Linked DNA regions of Homo sapiens: all the other regions are linked to region 4. Evidence: fine-mapped expression QTL. A gene starts in region 4. Each other region holds a variant in brackets. All regions are shown on one strand. Distances are from middle to middle.

The links. PIP is the estimated chance that this variant, and not a neighbour inherited with it, causes the effect.
Region 1: its variant is fine-mapped to the expression of TMEM255B in whole blood (INTERVAL, PIP above 0.99).
Region 2: its variant is fine-mapped to the expression of TMEM255B in whole blood (TOPMed, PIP above 0.99). The same link has a PIP of 0.9 or more in T cells.
Region 3: its variant is fine-mapped to the expression of TMEM255B in whole blood (INTERVAL, PIP above 0.99).

The regions. Positions count from the first base shown.
Region 1 is chr13:113,799,505-113,804,638 of GRCh38, reverse strand. It overlaps TMEM255B (transmembrane protein 255B), which reads right to left. Exons shown (of 9, transcript NM_182614.4): 6 at 3,727-3,812; 7 at 2,827-2,986. Among named protein-coding and RNA genes, the nearest start is that of GAS6-AS1, 14 kb to the left of the region's middle. RefSeq lists enhancers at 341-899, 2,605-3,479. The variant C/T (reference allele first, on the strand shown) is at 2,949.
Region 2 is chr13:113,820,792-113,825,925 of GRCh38, reverse strand. It overlaps GAS6 (growth arrest specific 6), which reads left to right. Exons shown (of 15, transcript NM_000820.4): 13 at 2,376-2,551; 14 at 3,740-3,968; 15 at 4,908-5,134. The coding sequence ends at 5,062. The region is part of intron 1 of GAS6-AS1 (GAS6 antisense RNA 1); the gene reads right to left. Among named protein-coding and RNA genes, the nearest start is that of GAS6-AS1, 7.7 kb to the right of the region's middle. RefSeq lists enhancers at 3,686-4,234, 4,784-5,134. The variant T/C (reference allele first, on the strand shown) is at 2,791.
Region 3 is chr13:113,810,571-113,815,704 of GRCh38, reverse strand. It overlaps TMEM255B (transmembrane protein 255B), which reads right to left. Exons shown (of 9, transcript NM_182614.4): 9 at 1-3,969. The coding sequence ends at 3,802. GAS6-AS1 (GAS6 antisense RNA 1) reads right to left here and starts at 95. Exons shown (of 5, transcript NR_044995.2): 1 at 14-95. RefSeq lists enhancers at 1-91, 142-211. The variant G/A (reference allele first, on the strand shown) is at 3,014.
Region 4 is chr13:113,756,201-113,761,334 of GRCh38, reverse strand. TMEM255B (transmembrane protein 255B) reads right to left here and starts at 2,109. Exons shown (of 9, transcript NM_182614.4): 1 at 2,020-2,109. The coding sequence starts at 2,065. RefSeq lists enhancers at 1,390-1,891, 2,448-2,949.

The sequences.
Region 1 (5,134 bases), 43 kb before region 4:
CGTTTATACCCAGGCTGGAGCTAACCCCGGCCCGGCGTGCGTTTATACCCAGGCTGGAGCTAACCCCGGCCCGGCGTAGCTTTACACTGAGGTTCTCTACATCTTGGTCCCAGGGCCCCGCCACCTGCTAGTCACACTGGGTGACCGCTCGGCTCGGGCTCTCTTTTACTTTTTTGATTTTTTGGGGGGGGAGAAAAAAGCACTGGTTTCCTTCTCTCCGGGCCCCAAAGTCTGCTTTTTCGGCACAGAAGGGTGCAGGTGGGGAGGGCCCTCTCAGCACCGGGCTGATGGCTCTCGCTTCCCCAAGCCTGTGCCCCAACCAGCGTGGGGTTTCTGGGGAATGCGAACAAAACCAAAGTCTCCTGAGCTCCCGTCCACACTTTCACTGACTCACTCAGGCAGTTAAAATTCTCCAAAGAAGGTGCTGGCTCCAACTCAGGCCCCGGCCGGCCTCATCCCCTACAGAGGGAGGGGCCCATGGCTCACACAAGCTTCAGGGCTTCCCCGGGCCAGAAACGCGGGGACTGGGCCGAGGGCACCCGGGCTTCGCCTCCCTCCCCACCTTCACACAGGTGCCCCTCCACCTTCCCCAGCCCCCACCCCCAGGTTCAGCAGCACCCTGGAGGAAGCCAGGGGAAGATGGCAAAGGCGGGGAAGCCAGGCCAGAGCCGCTGCGAGGGGCTGGCCACGGTGACGACCCGGGGACACGGTGACAACCCGGGGACACGGTGAAAACCCCGGGACAGGGTGATGACCCCAGGCCTGAGGTGTCCTCAGACAACGGTGCTGCCCGCACCCCTGGGGCTGGGAGGGAGCCCCCTGCCCAGCGGGCACTGGAAGGTGGGAAGGGGCAGGGCCTTCTGGGCAGCTGGTCCTTGGTCCACATGTGCAGGAGGCCGTGCTTCTGCCTCAGACCCTGCAGAGAGCAGGGGGGCAGCCGAGGTGGGCCTGGGAGGTTGGATGGGCATGGAGGGTCGTGCTCCGTGAGGGAGGGGCAGGAGATTTGCAGTTCTGACAGGTAGAGGGGTGGGGAGGCCTCTGAGCTGGCGGTGGCCTGAGGATGGGGCCGGGGCGAGTGCACAGAAAGCAGAGAACACGGGGGCCACGGAGTCACACGCGGAGGAGGCCCCTGAGAGGCTGGCTCAGCCGCCCGCCCTTGCCGGCACGTTAAGTGCCTCCCACGCACCCATCACAAGTAATTTGCCCTCGTCTACGAAGGGCACGTCCAGCTTGGAATGTTAAGGAATGAAGGAAGCATCTTCATTCCTTAACAAAATGTTTAAATGGCAAAATCAGTTAAACTCACAAGAGGGCCTGCTTGGTGGGTGTGAAGGTTAGCAAGTCCTCTCCTTGCTCTGCAGCCCTGAGCTTTGGGTTCGAGGAAGACTTCCTGGAGCCGGTGTGGCTCTGCATTGCGGGCTGGCCCTGGAGGTATCACCTGTTCCTGATCCTGCACTCCAGCATTTTATCACGGGCTTTAATGAACACACGAGCCCCTTCCGGAAAACCCTGGACACCCCGGGCCTGTGTGGCGAGCATGGCGCCTGCACCAGACAAGCGTTTCTGTGTCCTGTCTACAATCCGGCTGCAGTTCCTCCTGGGACGGCCGCTGAGAGGAGACACTGAGCTGCCGAGGCAGAGAAGCTTGCACCGAGGAGACGCCAAAGGCGCCCGGAGCCCGCGAGATCCCGGCAGAGACCCTTCCCGACCCCAGACTCCCGCTCCCACCGCAGGGGCCGGCCGGCTGTCACCACAGAGCAAGGACCCCTGGGAGGTGCCTGTCTTGTGTTGGTGTGCGGGCGTCTGGGGGCCCAGGGTGGGGCTTGGGGGGCCACTGGGTGGGGAGCCAGAGGGCTGGACCTCGGGATGCCAGGGTCACTCTCAGCTTCACCAGTTTTGTCTGGAAGCACAAAAGTGTTGAGAAAAGGAGGAGCTGAGAAGCAGATGGCAGGAGGGTTCCCAGCTGAGCTAATTTTTAGTCATGGACAGCCTCTGGGACGAATAGGGCATGGAGAAGCCGCTCAGGAGTGTTTTCGCTGCCTCGCTGGGCCGGGTCTGGCCTGCATGATGTGCGTCTGCCTGGTGCTGCCAGGCCTCCTCATGTGGGTGCAAGAGGGGGCGCCCCTCGTCCCTGGGCTGCCGTTTGGATACTCTGGGGGTTGGGGCTCCCTCACTCCTGGCTGCCCATCCCTTACAGCTTCTCTGCAAGTTCAGGGGGCGGGGTTTGCTGGCCGCACACCACGAGAACATCTGGTTTGAAACAGGCGCCAGGAGAGGGCAGAGGAGGGAGAAGAGAGAGGACATCCGGCCCGGGCCAGTGATTTCCCTGTGGTTTCCCGGGCGAGGGCCGGCCTTTCCAGGATGGGTCCAGCCCACCTCCCGCGAGGGGCCCCTTCCCTCCCTCCTCCTGCCCAGGCCAATCCTGGCTGTATGGGTCTCGCCTCTGGGGTTTGCTAAGGCATCAGCTCAGCCCCAGCCCAGACCTGCCCATCTGAAGCCCCAGGCAGTTGCTAATGATGGGAGCTTAGTGCACAAGGGCTGGGCCTCCCTCTTGGAGCTGAACATTGTTTCTTGGGGACGGCTGTGCCCACCTCAGCGGGGAGGCAAGGATTAAATCAGGTGATTCTTGTGACAGGCTTGGGACAGGACGGCCCCGAGGTGAGTCGGTGCACGCCAGCTGTCACCCTGACACCCTGCTGACAGACGCATGGGCTTCAGTGCCCCATCTGTAAAGTGAGGGCTGGAGGCCCCCCAGCCCACCCCGGGGAAATGGACCCGGAGCCCCGGCTCCCAGTGAGCAGCGGGGGTCCCACCAAGGGGCCTCACCATGTCCTTGAAGGCCCCCAGGACGGCGGCGGTGATGATGCCCAGGAACAGGCCCAGGACGTTCAGAACTGCAGAGGCCCAGAGCAGGCGGTACAGGTGCAGCACGTCCTGGCAGCCGCTGA[C/T]GCCGATGAACTCATAGTAGGCGGGCGAGGGCTCTGCGCTGCACAGAGAGGGCACCATGGCGTCACCGCACGAGGCAAGTGACCACCCGCAAGTTAAACTTGTGTCCTCTGGACCTGAGCCCTGCAGGGCTGGGGGAGGAAATCAGGGCTGGAGCCCAGTCAACGCCCATCCCTGCACTGCTCTGGGAGATCAAACCTATGTCTGATGGGATTGGCCTGTGAGGCTCCCCACCTGGGGCCCACAGTGGCAAAGAGCGGCAACTGGGCCTGGCGGGCCCGCCCCTCCGCCTCGATGGCCTGGCAGGACGGGTGTCTGGGCCCCGGCTGAGCCATCTCTGTCTTCACGCCAGGATGGGAAGGCCGTCGGGGTCACGGGCCCCTGTCCCAAGAGGGGGCCATGCCTGGGGCCTCAGAGGCCAGGCCAGGTTTAAACTCTCGCCCGACACACACGGGCTGTGTCCTCTTGGGCAGATCAACATTTCAGAGCCTCTGTCTTTTCATCTGTGAAATGGACTCAATGTCCTTTCCTCATGTAAACATCTAAGGAGTAAAGGAGACGATGTAGGTGCAGGGGTGTGGGGGGGGTGATGTCAGGAGCAGAAGGATGGAGGCCTCACCCCTGCAGGCACATACGGGGGTTCCCAGCGCCCCTCACCTCCCTCAGGTGTAGATATAGGGGTCCCCAGCGCCCCTCACCTCCCGCAGGTGTAGATACGGGGGTCCCCAGCGCCCCTCACCTCCCGCAGGTGTAGATATGGGGGTCCCCGGTGCCCCTCACCTCCCGCAGGCATAGAGGTCACAGCAGTAACAGGTGTTGCTTCTCACCTTCAGCTGGCACTTGCCGTCCAGGGAGTGACAGGTGACCTGGGGCAGAGAGGCCTTGTCAGGTCACATGCCGGTGCCCACCACCTCACCCACCCCACCAAGGGCAGGGCTGCCTCATGGGAGCTGGGAGCGGCCACTGAGGCCCAGCCAAGCAGCTGCCTCCCCCGACTTTCCCCCGACTCCAGACACAGAGGCTTGGGGGCTCGGGGGCCAGGACCCTTCCTGCAGGAGGGGTCAGGGGCACAGGCTGGTCCCAGAGGCCGGATAATCGGGGCTCAGAGGAGAGGCCTTGCTTCTCCATGATCCCAGGAGCAGAGGGAAATATCAGGGTGCGTGGGCAGAAGGACAGAGCCCAGGAGGCCTTCGGCGTGGGGTGCACAGAAGCCTGAGAGCCCGGAGGGCGGCAGAACAGGCCCCGTCCCAGGGCGCTCTCCCCCCAGGCTTGAGCACTGGCAGCCTCAGAAGAGACACCTGCCACCTCTGTGTGACAACCTTGAAAGCCCTGGCCAGGGGACACCCCCCAACACACACACACACACACACACACACACACACACACACACAGAGGACGCCTCCCCTGACACACACACACAGGACACCTCCACACACACACACACAGGATGCCTCCCCCCCACATACACACATGGCATGCCTCCCGCCTACCCCCCCCCACACACACACACAGGACACCTCCACACACACATACACATACACACACAGGACACCTCCCCCCTAAACACACACGGGACGCCTCCTGCCTACCCCCCCCCACACACACACACATAAACACACACACACACACGATGCCTCCCGGCAGCTGCTGGAGAGTCCCAGACAAGCTGGCAGGTGCTGGCCACTGAGAGGGCCTCCAGCTCCTCCTCCTCTGACACGCGTGCTGAGGATGAGAGGCTGCGTTTAGTTAAAGCCAGGAATCCACACAGGGCAGGTGCGAGACACACAGAGAGCGCCGTCACAGAGCTGTGCCCTCCGACGGTCCTGGCGAAGGCGGCGGCCGCCCGCGGGTCATTACTCCCCGCATCTCACTCACCTGGAAAGAGAAATGAGGTCACACTGCCGCTGTCGGTGGCTCAGGGAAATCCAGAAGTTTCTCGGACACTGTAAATGTATTATCCTTGCTTCTTATTGCAATAATTAAATTAGAAAAATGCTAATTGGAAGAGCCATACAGAACTGGACACGTGCACTCTGAGACTGTTGTGATTTAATGAAGCAAGTCCAGAACTCTGACTCCAGAGTGAAATACAGCACATCGAAATGTCAAGGTCCCAAACACAGGGGGCATCAACGGTTCACCAGCTGCAGGGGTGACCCCCAGGAACTATTAGAATCAAAATATTCAG
Region 2 (5,134 bases), 65 kb before region 4:
CGGCCCTCAAGCACCCAGCAGGAACCCCAGGTTCAAGGGGATCCACGCGGAGCAAAGGGGAGGGTCCTGCCCCGTCCTGAGCCAGATCCAGTGTCACCGTCTCCCCCCGGGTGTCAAAAGCGTGACCGTGTCAGGAAAGGCATCTGAGAAAAGCGCCATCTGCCACTGGCTGGACTGACTGTGCACACGCGTTCTCCCTCAGTCTTGATTTTTGGACTTCCAAATCTAGAGCATCATAATGTTTGACACGAAATCATGTCATATGAAATGCTTAAATCCTTTTTCCACTTAATATCATACACATTTCTCAGGGGTAACCTTATGCAGGCATCACAGGGGCCATTTCCAGTGACTGCCGGCCGCGTCTGCCGGCCCTTTTTGGTCTATCCGGACAGAAGCAGTTACAGCTCCATGCATTTCCAGTGAATCTCAAACTATACCAGTAACGTCTCTTACAAGACAGAGGAGACTTGCTGGGAATGGTAGTACTGGCCTGGCTCACTCTGCAGCGACTCTGCTGGGCTCAGGCTTGCAGATCTCCGGGTCTGTGCAGCCTCCATGCAAGGGGCCACGTGGAGCCGGGAAACCTTCCCGGGGAGAGCAGAGGCCGGTGCCCTTGTGAAGCCCCGATGGCCAACATGTGCCTAGCCTCCTGTCAGGAGCTTCCTTTTTTTTTTTTTTTTTTTTTTTTGAGACGGAGTTTCGCCTTTGTTGCCCACACTGGAGTACAATGGCACGATCTTGGCTCCACCTCCCAGGTTCATACCACAACCTCCGCCTCCCAGGTTCAAGCGATTCTCCTGCCTCAGCCTCCCGAGTAGATGGGATTACAGGCATGCACCACCACACCCAGCTAATTTTGCATTTTTAGTAGAGATGGGGTTTCTCCATGTTGGTCAGGTTGGTCTCGAACTCCCGACCTTAGGTGATCCACCCACCTCAGCCTCCCAAATTGCTAGGATTACAGGCGTGAGCCACCACGCCCGACTGGGAGCTTCCATTTTAAAGAACACCATCATCTCTCCCTTCACAGGTTATGGGAAGACCGGCAAACAGGAGACTTTTTGTTGTTACTTTTTGATTCTGTTGCAATATTTTTGTTACTTTTTCTGATTTTGTGTGTTTCGGTGCCATAAATGGTTGTTGAGAACTGATGTGGCGGGTACCAGCTAGGGACAGGCAGGACAGGCGATGTGGGTTTCAGGCGTACACAGCCCCGTGGGAAAGAGACAGGGAAACCAGCACAATTCACTCTGACCCCAACCTTGGCCTGCAGTGCGAGGCGCCCAGTCACAAATGTGTACACACAGTGATTTGGGGTCCTTTTTCCTAAAACAGCTTCTTTATCAGGACTTTGGAATTCTGGGTGAGATAGAAACACTGAAAACAGGGCGGAAGTTTTTTCTTCTGGCTTCTTAGTCCACGGAGGGCTCAGCGTGGAGAGGATATGCCGTGGCATTCTCCCTGGGAGACCACACATGTTCCCGACAGCTCAGACCCCAGACCGCATGTGCTCCTGACAGCTCAGACCCCAGACCGCGCGTGCTCCTGACAGCTCAGACCCCAGACCGCAGGTGCTCCCGACAGCTCAGACCCCAGACCGCGGGTGCTCCTGACAGCTCAGACCCCAGACCGCGCGTGCTCCCGACAGCTCAGACCCCAGACCGCGGGTGCTCCTGACAGCTCAGACCCCAGACCGCGCGTGCTCCCGACAGCTCAGACCCCAGACCGCGGGTGCTCCTGACAGCTCAGACCCCAGACCACGCGTGCTCCCGACAGCTCAGACCCCAGACCACGGTGCTCCTGACAGCTCAGAACTCAGACCGCGGGTGCTCCTGACAGCTCAGACCCCAGACCGCGCGTGCTCCTGACAGCTCAGACCCCAGACCACCGTGCTCATGACAGCTCCTGTCCGCATGCTATCTTAAACTCTCAGCCCCCACTGGGCCCTGTGCTGCTACCTGAAAGCTGCAGGTGAGATGCGAGGCACGAGGCCACGCACGCTCTGAGGAAGGAGCTGTCAGGCGCTCCTGAAACAAGAGGACATCGGAGGGAGGCAGGGACAGGCCTGCGTCCCATGGTGCACAGCCTGTGGCCCCTCAGACGGGCCTGTGTGGCCTGGTGGTCACCTACAGGGCATTTGGAAGTGGGGTACTGGTGTGGCCAGGGAGAAACAGCCTGGGGGTCCCCGGTGCCTCTGGGCTCCGGGCCAAGATCTGAACCAGTCTGTTGAGTTTTCCATCACGTCCCAGATCCGGGGCTGTCTGCACAGCTTCCCACCCCGGCTGGGACTGCATCTCTCGAGGCCCTGCTCCGACCTCACTGTGGCCTCTCCACCGTGCATACCACCCTATAATGCACCGCTTTCATTGCAGTGCGGACCCCTCTGGACGTCGGGACTGAATCAACCTGGGAAGTAGAAGTCGTGGCTCACATCCGCCCAGCCGCAGACACAGGCGTGCTGTTTGCGCTCTGGGCCCCCGACCTCCGTGCCGTGCCTCTCTCTGTGGCACTGGTAGACTATCACTCCACGAAGAAACTCAAGAAGCAGGTAGGGCCTCCGCCACCCAGGGCGTCCTGACCGGCTCGACCCACGGGTACGTGGGCTGCACTCCCTGGCAGGGGACGAAGGGGGCCCGCGGTGGGATCCCCAGGGACCCCCAAAGCCTCTGACCAGAGGTCTGATGAGCCAAGCCCGGCGTGGGCCACGCTTCGGGCTGCGGGGGTTGTTTGGACACCAGGTCACCGCCACACAGCTGAGGGGGCCGGCGCCTGCGAGCCACACTCGGC[T/C]CACAGTGTGGGAGCTTTTCCCCTGTTCGGTTGGGCAGATGGTGGCTCACAGCAATCTGAATTAGTCTCTGGTGTTTAAGTCAGATGATTTCAGCAACAAACTCAGTTTTCCAATTTCCCTGGAAAAGTCGGATCTGTGACCTTGGCCGGTCCCCCAACAGCGTCTTTCCGTGGGGGACACCGGGTGGAGCTGAGTGCAGCTGCCCCTTGGACAAGGTCCCCCCACCCCCGGTCCTCACAATAAGTCAGCTGTCCTGGGCTGGGGGACTCATGCTGTTTTCCCCACAGAACAATCAAGAGGTGACAGAAACAGCTTTTATTCTCTCGCTCGTGTGCTAAGGAGGGAGACATGGGTCAAACCAGAGAGGCTCACGTTCTCCAAGTCTGCCCACCCCGGGGCCACAGAGCCCTCCCGCTTGCTGGGATACGACAGACAGGCTTGGTTCATGCAAATGCTCGTTACCAGGGCCAGACCCAATCTCAGCATCTGGAATAAACAGCTGCTGTTATGTAGCAACAGCCGACCCCTGGGCTGCTGGGCTGTGGTGCCAGCGTGAGTGCCCACCGGGCTGGGAGGCCGCCACCGCAGGGCTGGGTCCTGGGTCCCCATCAGGGCCACCCCAGTTCCTGGTCAAGTGCAGCCTCGGTCTTGTGTGTGCCTGGTGCCTGGGGCTGGGGTTGACCCTCTCACACCCAACCTGGGGGCCACACTTGTTCCCCCACAGCCTCCCAGGCTGGCCCCTGGCTTTACGTGCAGAGAAGCTGAGCCCCAGGTGGGGTGGGGGTGTCATCCACAGTCAGCGAGCATCCAGACCCAGGGCTGCAGGGAACCCTGGACGGAGACAGGCGTGCGGCGTAGGGGTGGCCAGCAGCTGTGAGGACCAGCTTGGACCTAACAGCTCACGTAGGGGTGGCCGGCAGGCCCTGACCACACCTCGGTCTCCTGCAGCTGGTGGTCCTGGCCGTGGAGCATACGGCCTTGGCCCTAATGGAGATCAAGGTCTGCGACGGCCAAGAGCACGTGGTCACCGTCTCGCTGAGGGACGGTGAGGCCACCCTGGAGGTGGACGGCACCAGGGGCCAGAGCGAGGTGAGCGCCGCGCAGCTGCAGGAGAGGCTGGCCGTGCTCGAGAGGCACCTGCGGAGCCCCGTGCTCACCTTTGCTGGCGGCCTGCCAGGTAGGTGCTCCCTGCTCCGCTCAACCCGGGTGAAGAGCTCCAGGGAGGCCCAGCTTGGTCACCCCAGATCTAACCTGGACAGGCTGGGGTTTCTGGTAGTGAATGCGGAAGAGGACTTGTGTTTTAAGAGGAAGGAGAAGTCCAGGTGGGTCGTTAGTGGCTATTATGGTGTCTCGGTGCTGGTCAGGTCATTGGCTGAGACTGAGAAACACGTACGGGGGCCGGCATTGGCCTGAGTCAGGCCCCACGAACCTGCATCTTCAGGGAGCATTCGTCCACACCCATCAGACCAGCCCCGGGGGAGAGGGCTGGGCAGACCTCGGGCCAGGCTGCAGTTGGGACCCGCGGCTGTCACCGCAGCTGTTAGCAGCGAACAGAGTGACCGCCAGCCCCTCCCATGTCCAGCAGGGCGTCCTGCCGTGTCCCATGGGCTACACAGCACAGAGGCTGGGACCGGGGATGTCCTTGCCATGAGCTGGGAGGGTCAGCGGAAAGGCACGTGGGAGCCGGCAAGTCCTCGGCTGCCCGCAGGTTTTCACTTGCGGCAAACGGCAGGATTTCTCTCTTGGCTGCCAGACACAGACTCCACTTAGTTTTAATAAACAGAGCTTTGAAGAGGATGAGAGCGAGCCAGGAGGCCTGCAGCCTGAATGACTCACTGGGCACAGAAGAAGATCACGTTTAACCGATGGGACTGTCTGTGCTCCCAGCGGGGAAGGGAGGGCTGGCGTCTGCAGAGCCCAGGCTGGCAGATGCCTCCTGCTTGTCTGCCGGGTCTGCGGCCAAACGAACGGGGACCGAGAAGTTAGAGAAGAAAGGGAAACCCTGCCCTTTCGGAGGGAACCCGGGGCTGGCCACAAGCGCTGCCGGGGGTGGGGGGGCCAGGCGGGGCCGGCCACGTGGTGAGCTAAGATATGTTGTTCTCTCCCTGCGGCCCAGATGTGCCGGTGACTTCAGCGCCAGTCACCGCGTTCTACCGCGGCTGCATGACACTGGAGGTCAACCGGAGGCTGCTGGACCTGGACGAGGCGGCGTACAAGCACAGCGACATCACGGCCCACTCCTGCCCCCCCGTGGAGCCCGCCGCAGCCTAGGCCCCCACGGGACGCGGCAGGCTTCTCAGTCTCTGTCCGAGACAGCCGGGAGGAGCCTGGGGGCTCCTCACC
Region 3 (5,134 bases), 54 kb before region 4:
TAACGGGACTTACAATTGCACATGGTTGGGGAGGCCTCAGAATCACGGTGGGAGGCAAAAGGCACTTCTTACACGGCAGGAGCAAGAGAAAATGAGGAAGAAGCAAAAGCGGAAATCCTGATCAACCAGTCAGATCTCGTGAGACTTACTCACTATCACGAGAATAGCACGGGAAAGACCAGCCACCATGATTCAATTACCTCCCGCTGGGTCCCTCCCACAACGCGCAGGAATTCTGGGAAATACAATTCAAGTTGAGATTTGGGTGGGGACACAGCAAAACCATATCACCCATGTCCCTTCCTCTCTCCGTGGCCGGTGACCCCATGTGGACGGACCGTCACCCATGTCCCTTCCTCTCTCCGTGGCCGGTGACCCCACGTGGACGGACCGTCACCCATGTCCCTTCCTCTCTCCGTGGCCGGTGACCCCACGTGGACGGACCGTCACCCATGTCCCTTCCTCTCTTTGTGGCCGTTGGCCCCATGTGGACGGACTGTGTCCCTCCCCCACTCAGTAGTTGCCTCTGCTTGGGAGCTCTTGTGAGCAGTGCTGCTGTGTGAAATGTAGAAACTGAGGCAGGAGGAGACTCCCTGTAACCCAAGGTCCCAAGCTAATAAGGTGGGGCCAGTCTCAACGGACCCCTGCCCAGGGCAATGCTCTGACCCTGCCCTCCTCAGTCACAACCTGCAGCTACACTAGGCCCCCACCTCTGAGCTGCAGGAGAAGCCTGTCTCCTGTGCTGTCCCAGTGAGGCAGGGAGTGCAGGTGGGGCCACAGCACCCCAAACCCCCCAGCACCCCCTGCCCCGGGGCCACAGCACCCCCAAACCCCCCAGCACCCCCTGCCCCACCATCCCCTCCACCCCATCTCCCGCGGCCTCCAGGGTCTCACTGACCTCGGCTGTGCATGGGAACCAAGTGAGGGCGGGATTGGGAGCCCATCCCTGCAGAGGAGGCTGGGATCAGAAGGCCCCAGCGGAGCCCAGAGAGGGGGTTCATCAGACCGTGACTCAGGCTGGCAGAGCTTGGTGGCCCCAGACAGGATCCGTCCACATGAGACAGGTGCACCTCGAGAGCAGCCGCCGCCCACACTGCAGGCCAGGCATTGGCCGGAGCCCTGCGCCAGGTGGGAGCTGCCCTGGGACCTGGGGGACCCTCCAGCCACCACGAACCTTGAGTCAAATTGTTCACATTCTTTGTGGCTGGGATAAAGGATAAGGACATTTTTGTGGCAAGAACAAAACTGTTGACCTTGGAGTTGAATATTTTTGAACAGCTTTTGACTCTAGACAAGATTAAAAGTCGGGAAAGATCGATGTTGTGTTTGGGGGAAGCTGGTGAGTGCAGCCTCGGGGAAGCACTCTGATGCCCCCACACCGCACCCTGCGACCGAGGGCTGACATGAGGGGAAGGAGGGTTATTCCTGTGACTTTGCTGGCCAGAGCTCCAGGGGGCATAGACTCCCTGCCCAGACCTGCAGTTCAGCTTCTCTGCTGTTCGCACCCCTAGGACACCAAGAGGTGCTGGTGCCTGCACCAGGCAGCTTCGGGGGCACAGCCCGAGCTCCAGGGTGCCCAGGAACCGCCCACACAAGACCACGGCACCATCGGCGCCCATAGAGCCTTCCCTGAGGTAAAGTGAGAGCCCTGGGGACTCGGGAAATCCGTGGCACACTTTTCTTCCCCCACAGGCGCTCGTGAGTGCATCTCCCGGCGCTCCAGAAACCTCTTGGTCTCTGCTGCTTGTTCAGCTTCTTACTCGGAGCCAGGCACCCACAGCCCTGGAGGAACTGGGCGGTGATTTCCAGACAGGACGCCGCACCTCCGGCTCGTGCCCGACCTCCCGGACTGGTTCAAGGCCAGTCAGCCCTGAGAGGCCAAGACCACATTCTCCTGGACAGCAAGCTTGTGAGGCTGGATTTTATAAGATAAAAATGACAAGCAGTGGCGGGTTCACAGACCAGAGCTGGCTGCAGGCCTTTCAGAGGCCCGTTAGGGCCCCTGGGCCCAGCCAGCCACCGTTCATGTGTGGATGTGCGCTGTGGGCCTTCTGCCCAGGAGCGCTGGACACAGGATGAGACCCTCCGTCGGGCAGAGGGAGGCTCCCGGGCAGCGGAGGGGGCAGAGGCTGTGTGAGACCCTCCATCGGACAGAGGGAGGCTCCCGGGCAGCAGAGGGGGCAGGAGGCTGTGTCTGCACGAGTGTGGCTCCCCTCCACCTTATCTTTTTTCTCCCAGATCCAGGACTGGGCAGGGGAGAAAGTCCCCGCTCCACCTCCCAGGTGGGCACTGTTCCGTGAAGTAAGCTGGAGACCTCAGACCCACACGGGAGAAGAGCGGTACTTGTTTATCGTAGGCACGGGGGGCTTTGCAGGGAGGGACGTGAGGCCCTGAGAGCGGTGAGGCCTGGAGGCGCCAGCTTCCGAGGGGAGAGGGAGTGACTGGGGAACCGTGAGCGGCCCACAGAGCAGAGACGGCGACTTGGTGTCTTGTGGCACGTCTGGGGAGCAATGGGATCACCTCTCGCCCGCCCTCCCGCCCTGGGAGTCCCTGGTTCCCTGAGGATCTGACTTCAGGAGTTCAGAGAAAGCCTCTCCCCACATCCAACACTTTTCAAGAGACTTCGGCTACTTTGGGGTGGCGCATCCTGAACTCCTGTCACTGGGGCGCCTGTGACCCACCCGGGACCCGTGACCCACTCGGGACCCGTGACCCACCCGGGACCCGTGACCCACCCGGGGCCCGTGACCCACCCGGGACCCGTGACCCACCCGGGACCCGTGACTCACCCGGGGCCTGTGACTCACCCGGGGCCTGTGACCCACTCGGGACCTGTGACCCACCCGGGATGCCTGTGACCCACCCGGGACCTGTGACCCACTCAGGACCTGTGACCCACCTGAGACCTGTCCTGTGACCCACCCGGGGCCTGTGACCCACCCGGGACCTGCTGCTTCCCAGGCGTGCTCACCCGTCTCCCCAGGTGTGCCCGGCAGGTGCATGCTGGGCCCGC[G/A]GGGAGCTAAGCTGGTTTCCACAGGGAGTGCTGCGGCCCCAGACCCTGAGCCAAAGGACCCCGAAACACCGTCCCCCACCATCCCAGCGGCCAGGGGTCCTGAGACAAGGTGCGGTGAGGGAGAAGCCGCGGAAGGACAGCGGAAGCCCAGGCGCCGTAGCTGGGAGACAGCTCAGGGGAAGACCCTCGTGCCAGTGGCCCAGGCAGATTTGCATCCGGGGCTGGGAAAGACAACCGGGCCCCTGGATTCTAACAACTCACAGGCGGTTAGACACAGCGCTGGGCGTTGGAGCCGAAGCGTCCTTCCCTTCCTGGCATACGTCAGGAGCACAGCACGAGGGGCGGGTGGCTTCTGCCCTGCGCTTCTCCAGGACACAGATGCACACACGAACGTGTAACGCACAACACATGTCCACAAACAAGAACACACAGGCAGGGAGGCCGGGGCTGCACTGTCTTTGCAAAATCATAATAATAGCTAATTAATTAAGGGATGTGAAAACACCAGAACAATTGCTCTCAGAGGAGGAGGCCGGGTGGGAACTTTCAGCGCCATTTGATGTGAGCAGAGCCCAAGCCAAGGTGTCACCAGCCTGGGTCTGGAGGGCCCCACTCCCTGCCTGGTTCCAGCCTCCCTCACCAGTGTGCCCAGGGAGGAAAGGAGGGGACAGACTTCTGGAACATTCTCCCGGGTTCTCTAGGAGGTTGGCCACAGAAGCGGGATTTCTAGAGGCTGCCTTTTTTTTAAAAAAAAAAACAAACAAGTTATCTTTTACTCCACGCCTCTATCAGGGTGCGTAGGGGGGTGGCTTCTCCCCCGGGGGAAAGTAGGTGGGTGCGTAGCACGGTGGAGCCTGGCCGGGAAGCCCAGAGCCAGAGCTGCTTGGAGAAGGGGGCTGCAGGTCCTCAGACGAAGCCAGGGCAGAGGAGGGCGCAACTGGGAAGCGGCTGCAGGGCTGCAATAAACAGAGAGGGCCCTGGGTTAGCAGGTGAGACCACCCCGTGCCGGACCACAGGGAAGCCTGACATATACCAGGGCCACTCACACGCTCCCCACCCACCCCGCCAACCCAGGGCCACCCGCAGACTCAGGGCCATTCACATGGGCCCCCCGCAGACCCAGGGCTATTCACACAGGCCCCCTCAGACCTAGGGCCACTCACACAGGGCCCCCCGCAGACCCAGGGCTATTCACACGGGCCCCCCACAGACCCAGGGCTATTCACACGGGCTCCCACAGACCCAGGGCCACTCTCACGCCCCTCCCCTCCCCCGGAGACCCAGGGCCACTCTTACGTCCCCCTCCCCCACCGCAGACCCAGGACCTCTCTCACCGGCCCCCACCCCACAGACCCAGGACCACTCTCACCGGCCCCCCCACAGGCCCAGGCCCACTCTCACGGGCCCCCACAGACCCAGGACCACTGTCACGGGCCCCCACCCCACAGACCCAGGACCTCTCTCACCGGCCCCCCCCACAGATCCAGGACCTCTCTCACTGGCCCCCACCCCACAGACCCAGGACCACTCTCACGGGCCCCCACCCCACAGACCCAGGGCCACCAGAAGGAGCAGCCCCAGCCCGGGGCAGAACAGGAGAGGGTGGCCGGGGCCTCACTGGCACAACCTTGGCCTCCACAGCTGCATGGGGCAGGGGGTGGACGCCCCAGGAAGGGTGTCCTCAGACCACATCCCACTTCCTCACAGCCAGCGAGCCTCTGACCTGACTCCAAAACCAACAGTTAGGGTCCACCAGGCCTGGGGCCCCTGGGCTCACCCAACTCTTCATATTTGGGAAAGGCCCCACGTATGAACCCCACACGTCCACACGTCCAGCAGCGTGTGGCTGGTTCAGTGTCACCGTGGCTGACTCAGCGGCTCACACACGCATCTGGGTGTTGCCGTGGAGGCATCTTCAGGTGTGATTGACACCCTTGCGTACAGTGCCTCAGCCCCTGGACACGGACGGCCCCTCCTCTCCACTGAAGGCGTTAAGGAAAGAGGCTGTGGTCCCCAGGAGAAGTGGACTCTGCCCCAGTGGCCTAGGCACTCCCGGGGCAGCGTCACCCTCCCTGGTCTCCAGCCTGCCCCCTCCCTGTGGTTGTGCACCTGAAGCCCACA
Region 4 (5,134 bases):
GAGGCTGGAGGTCAGGTTCTTCCTGCCCCTCAGACCCATTTCCTCTACTCCACAGAGCCAGGAAGGGGAATGTCACAAAGCATGGGAGGTGGCACTGCTTGGAAGGGTTCTAAGATCCGGCCTTCCTGCCAGCCGGACCTGGAACGCCCAAAAAGAAGAGTGAGTTCCATTTAATCATGTGGGGACACCAGTCATGGTGTCCAAGTAACAATCCCAGGTAAAACTGTAATCACTCAGCCGTCAATTCCTCTTTCGTCCTGATTTTACACATGCCCAGGGTAGTGAACAAAGAAGGGCAAAGCAGAAAAACCCATAATCCTACCCCCAGGTACCCCAAAGCAGAAAGACTATGGTCCACCCCCAGATACCCCAAAGCAGAAAAACCCACAATCTACCTCCAGACACACCAAAGCAGAAAGACCATAACCCACCCCCAGACACACCAAAGCAGAAAGACCATAATCCACCCCCAGGCACACCAAAGCAGAAAGACCATAATCCACCCCCAGATACCCCAAAGCAGAAAGACCATAACCCACCCCCGATACCCCAAAGCAGAAAGACCATAATCCACCCCCAGACACACCAAAGCAGAAAGACCATAATCCACCCCCAGATACCCCAAAGCAGAAAGACCATAATCCACCCCCAGATACCCCAAAGCAGAAAGACCATAACCCACCCCCAGATACCCCAAAGCAGAAAGACCATAATCCACCCCGACACACCAAAGCAGAAAGACCATAATCCAACCCCAGACACACCAATGCTTTATACATTTTAGTAAAAGACCAGCTCCAAACAAAAAGACCCATAATCCTACCCAGATACACCAATGTTTCATATACTAAAAAGACCAGCTCCAAGTATTGTTTTAAGGTTTAAAGTTCTTTGTCAGAAGAAAATCTAAGTCAGATGCTATTTTTAAACATTAAGGCATTCTAATAATGATAAAACTAGTTAATAAATAATAATAATAGTTATCATTATTAAACACCAATAGACTAATCCACATTAATACATTTGACCATAGAGCATTTTGCTTTAGATTGGAAGGCATATAGTGGTTTCTTTTAGAAAGAAGCCAAATTATTTGATTATTTTAAGTAACAGTAATTCGTCCGGTTCCGAACGATGCCGCAGTAAAAGGGTTGTGAGGTTAATCCCCAGAAGTTTGTGTTGGATTATTTCTGAGGGAGCGGCAGAGCCCCCTAGACACCACTCCATCCCTCCCTCCAGCCGTCAGGGCTTCACTTTCTAGGGAACTCTGTTTCTCTTTTGTTCTGAAATCTGCCCAGCCCTCTCCCCCTCAGGAAGACACCCGGCATCCTTCCAGTCCTGGCCACTTCCCGGCAGAGCCCCCGAGCCCGGCTTGCGAACTGGTGAACACGCAACAGGTTTCCTGTTTTCCCAGCCTTTGCCTGGCTCCGAGGCTGCAGCGGGCTTGGTCTGGGAAGTGGAAGAATTGGAGATTCCGTGAACACACCGGGGAGAAACACGAGAGAGGGGCGAGCCGAAACCAAGCAACACTGTCCAGTTCTGTGAGCGCCTCTGCACGTTCAAACAGGAAAAGGCTACCTCGCTCTTCCAAACGAAGTTTTCCCGGAAAATGGTGTAGGTTGGAATAAACGGAAGAGATGGGGAAGGAGCGCACTTTGGGGCGCCTGTTCCTCATAATAAAACGTAACAGGGAGAGAGAGGCCAAGAGGAACGGACACAGAGTCAGAGAAAGGCAAAGACTGAGGAGGCAGAGACAGAAAGAGCGAGAGAGACAGAGACAGAGACAGAGAGAGAGACAGGGAGAGAGAATGAATGAACGAACCGGTAGGACGAACGCCCGACCCCAGTGCGAAATGCAAAGTGTTCCAAAGACAGAGCTCGAAGGAGGCGGAGGGACCAGACCCCGTGCCGCGTCTCCGCGCAGGTTCCGCCCGGGCCGGCCGGGGACCTGTAGTCCCAGCCCCGGGGTCCCCACGCTCCCCCGCAGGAGCCGAGACGAGCCCCCAGCCCCGCGCTCACCTGCGGGGTCCAGCAGGCCCAGGGGCCCGGGCACCGGCGGCTGCATCCCGAGGCCCCACCCGGCTCTCCCGGGGCCACAGCCACAGTCCCGCCGCCAGGAGCCGCCCTCGCGGCGCCGCCCCTTCCCCGCCCCCTGCACCTCCCCGCGCTCCGCCCGCCTCGCGTCCTTCCTCGCTCTACTCTCCCTTCTCCGGCGTTTCTTCTCCTCCCTCCCCCGCTGCGCCCGCTCCCCCTTCTCCCCTCCAGCGGCCGCCTGGTTTCTGGAAATCAGGACGCCGCGGCCGGGAGTGGAAGCCAGACCCCAGATGGAAGGTGCCTGGAGAGGACCCTGCGGACTCGGGGTCGGAGCCCCGGCCTGGGACGGTGACCCCGGGCCTTCCGCCGCTGGCGCCACGCTCAGCCCTTGGCGGTGCCGCTGAGTGGGTCACCACGGGTTCGCCTCCCCATTGGCCGGTGACGGAGCTCCTTGGGGCTACAGGGCCAGCCAGCCCTTGATCTCTGGGTTCAGAGGGTGGTACATGGTGTTACAACCCAGTCTGCGAGGAACGAGTAAATGAGGAACAAACGCAAATGAGTAAATGAGGAACAAACGCATCTGGCACCTCACTCAGCAGCCCCGAGGCAGGGCTGACCCGCCTCTCCAAGGCCTGCGTCTTTGTGTCCACAGCACTGAAGTTGTTCTGAGTAAAATCTGCTGCTGGAAAGAAGGGCAAGGAAACACGGGGCCAGAAAGGGTGCCTCGTACAGCAGCAGGAAAAAATAAAGATCCTTCTAAACGTATTTTTAACATCTTTGAGTCAAGGACATCAGCGGTCCCGTCACAAAAGAAGATGCTTGAACGATCAATAAACTCAGCCCCCGGAATTAGGGGAACGCTGTGGGAACAAGAGGATGCGTTTCACCCTCATCCTATCAGAAAACCCCAAGGGTCAAACAACTTAAAGAATGTTAATGAAAACGTGGGAATCTGCATTCACCGCTGGGATCACGCATGGTGCCACCACTTTGAAAGCAACCTTTAGGAAAATTGAAGCAAGTAGATGACAAGCCAGAAAGAAAGCATATCTCTTTCTAGATATGCCCAAGAACACAAACATAGATCTGCTCCTTCGAGCCAGGAGCCGTGGTTCTCAACCCCGGCTGTCGTTAAAGTCATCCAGGAATGTCTTTAAAAGAAAAAACATTTCTGCAGCACTGAACCCAGACCAGATCAATTGAACCAGAACTTCTGGGAACAAACTAATAGCTAAGAATTCCCTAGTCATTCTAATAGGCCATCCACTGTGAGAGAGAAACTACCACAAGAAGTATGCATGTGCTAGAAGATGCGTACAGAATATTCCTCACAACACTGTGTGTCCAAAGCACCGGACACACCCTGAATATCCAACACGGGGAGAAGCGATAAAGAAATGGGCATATACAGCGAAATACCACATGGCAGTTAAAATAAATGAGAGCTACATGGATCAATGTGGATAAATGCCAAAAACAGAACGCGGAGCAAAAATGCAAGTGCACAGTACGGCAGCGAGTACGACAGCAAGTACGGCAGCGAGTATGGTACCATTTATATAAAGTTTTAAACCATGAAAATTAACACTGTTCACTCAGTGAGCCTCTCAAGACTTACTAAACATCCGCGATATACCAGACACTGTTCCAGGTACTTGGGATGTATCAATGAGCAACGTAAACAAGGATCCTGGTGGGGAAGTGAGGCCATGAATAATAATACAATAAACAAGAAAAATGCACAGCATGTCAGAGGGCAACATGCTATGGAATACACACACACATATACACATACACACATGCAGACATACACACATGCATGCACATACACACATACACACACATGCATATATACACATGCATACATACACACATGCATGCATGTGTGCATACATACATGCACGCATACATACATGCACATACACACATGCATACATGTGTGCATACATACACGCACACATACATACACATACATACACACATGCATACATACACACTTATACGTGCATACATGCACATATGCACATATACATACACACATGCATGCATACACACATGCACACACATACACATGCACACATACATGCACACACATGCACATACACACACATACACACTTATACATACACACACATACACACATACATACATACACAGCCAGGTAATGCAGGCCACAGAAAAAGGAAAGAGAGGTAAAGAAACAAAATAGAAAGTATAGTGTGGGAGAGGGAGGGAGCTGTGGTTTTTAAGTAGTGAAAAGAGAGCTTGTTGACAGGTGATGTTGAAGACCAAGCTTGAGGGCGTGGAGGTGGTTGCTCACCCAGACATCTGGGGCAGAGGGTCTGAGGAAAAGGAACCTCCATGCAAAGGCCCTGGGGTGGAGCCATCCAGGCCCAGGGGGAGCAGCAAGGAGACCAGGGTGCCAGAGGCTTGTGGGGACCAGGTGGAGGACATCAGGGGTGAGCCGCAGGGCCTCTGGCCTTTGCTCCGAGTGATGTGGGGGTTATTGGAGGGTCCTACACATAGGATTACTGGAGAGTAGTTGTAGGATAGCAGAATGGAAGCTGAGAAACTGGTTATAGGATATGATGAAACAGTAGGAGGTGATTACACGGACACCATGAGTCATGTTTGCAGATACACGGACACCGTGAGTCCTGTGTGCAGATACACGGACACCGTGAGTCCTGTGTGCAGATACACGGACACGTTGAGTCATGTGTGCAGATACACGGACGTGAGTCTCGTGTGCAGATACATGGACACCGTCTCGTGTGTGCAGATACATGGACACCGTGACTCATGTGTGCAGATACACGGACGTGAGTCTCGTGTGCAGATACATGGACACCGCCTTGTGTGTGCAGATACATGGACACCATGAGTCATGTGTGTGCAGATACATGGACACCGTGAGTCATGTGTGTAGATGCATGGATACTGTGTAAGTAAAGTAGAAGAACATGCTGGGGGAGAGTGCATGCTTCATCCAGAACTGTGATTCTCTGTCTGGGTGGACAAGCTGAACAGCTTTGGAACTATGTCTAGGGGCTTAAACTCTATTTGTGAAATCTTCTTTCTTTAAAAAAGTTAAAAGACT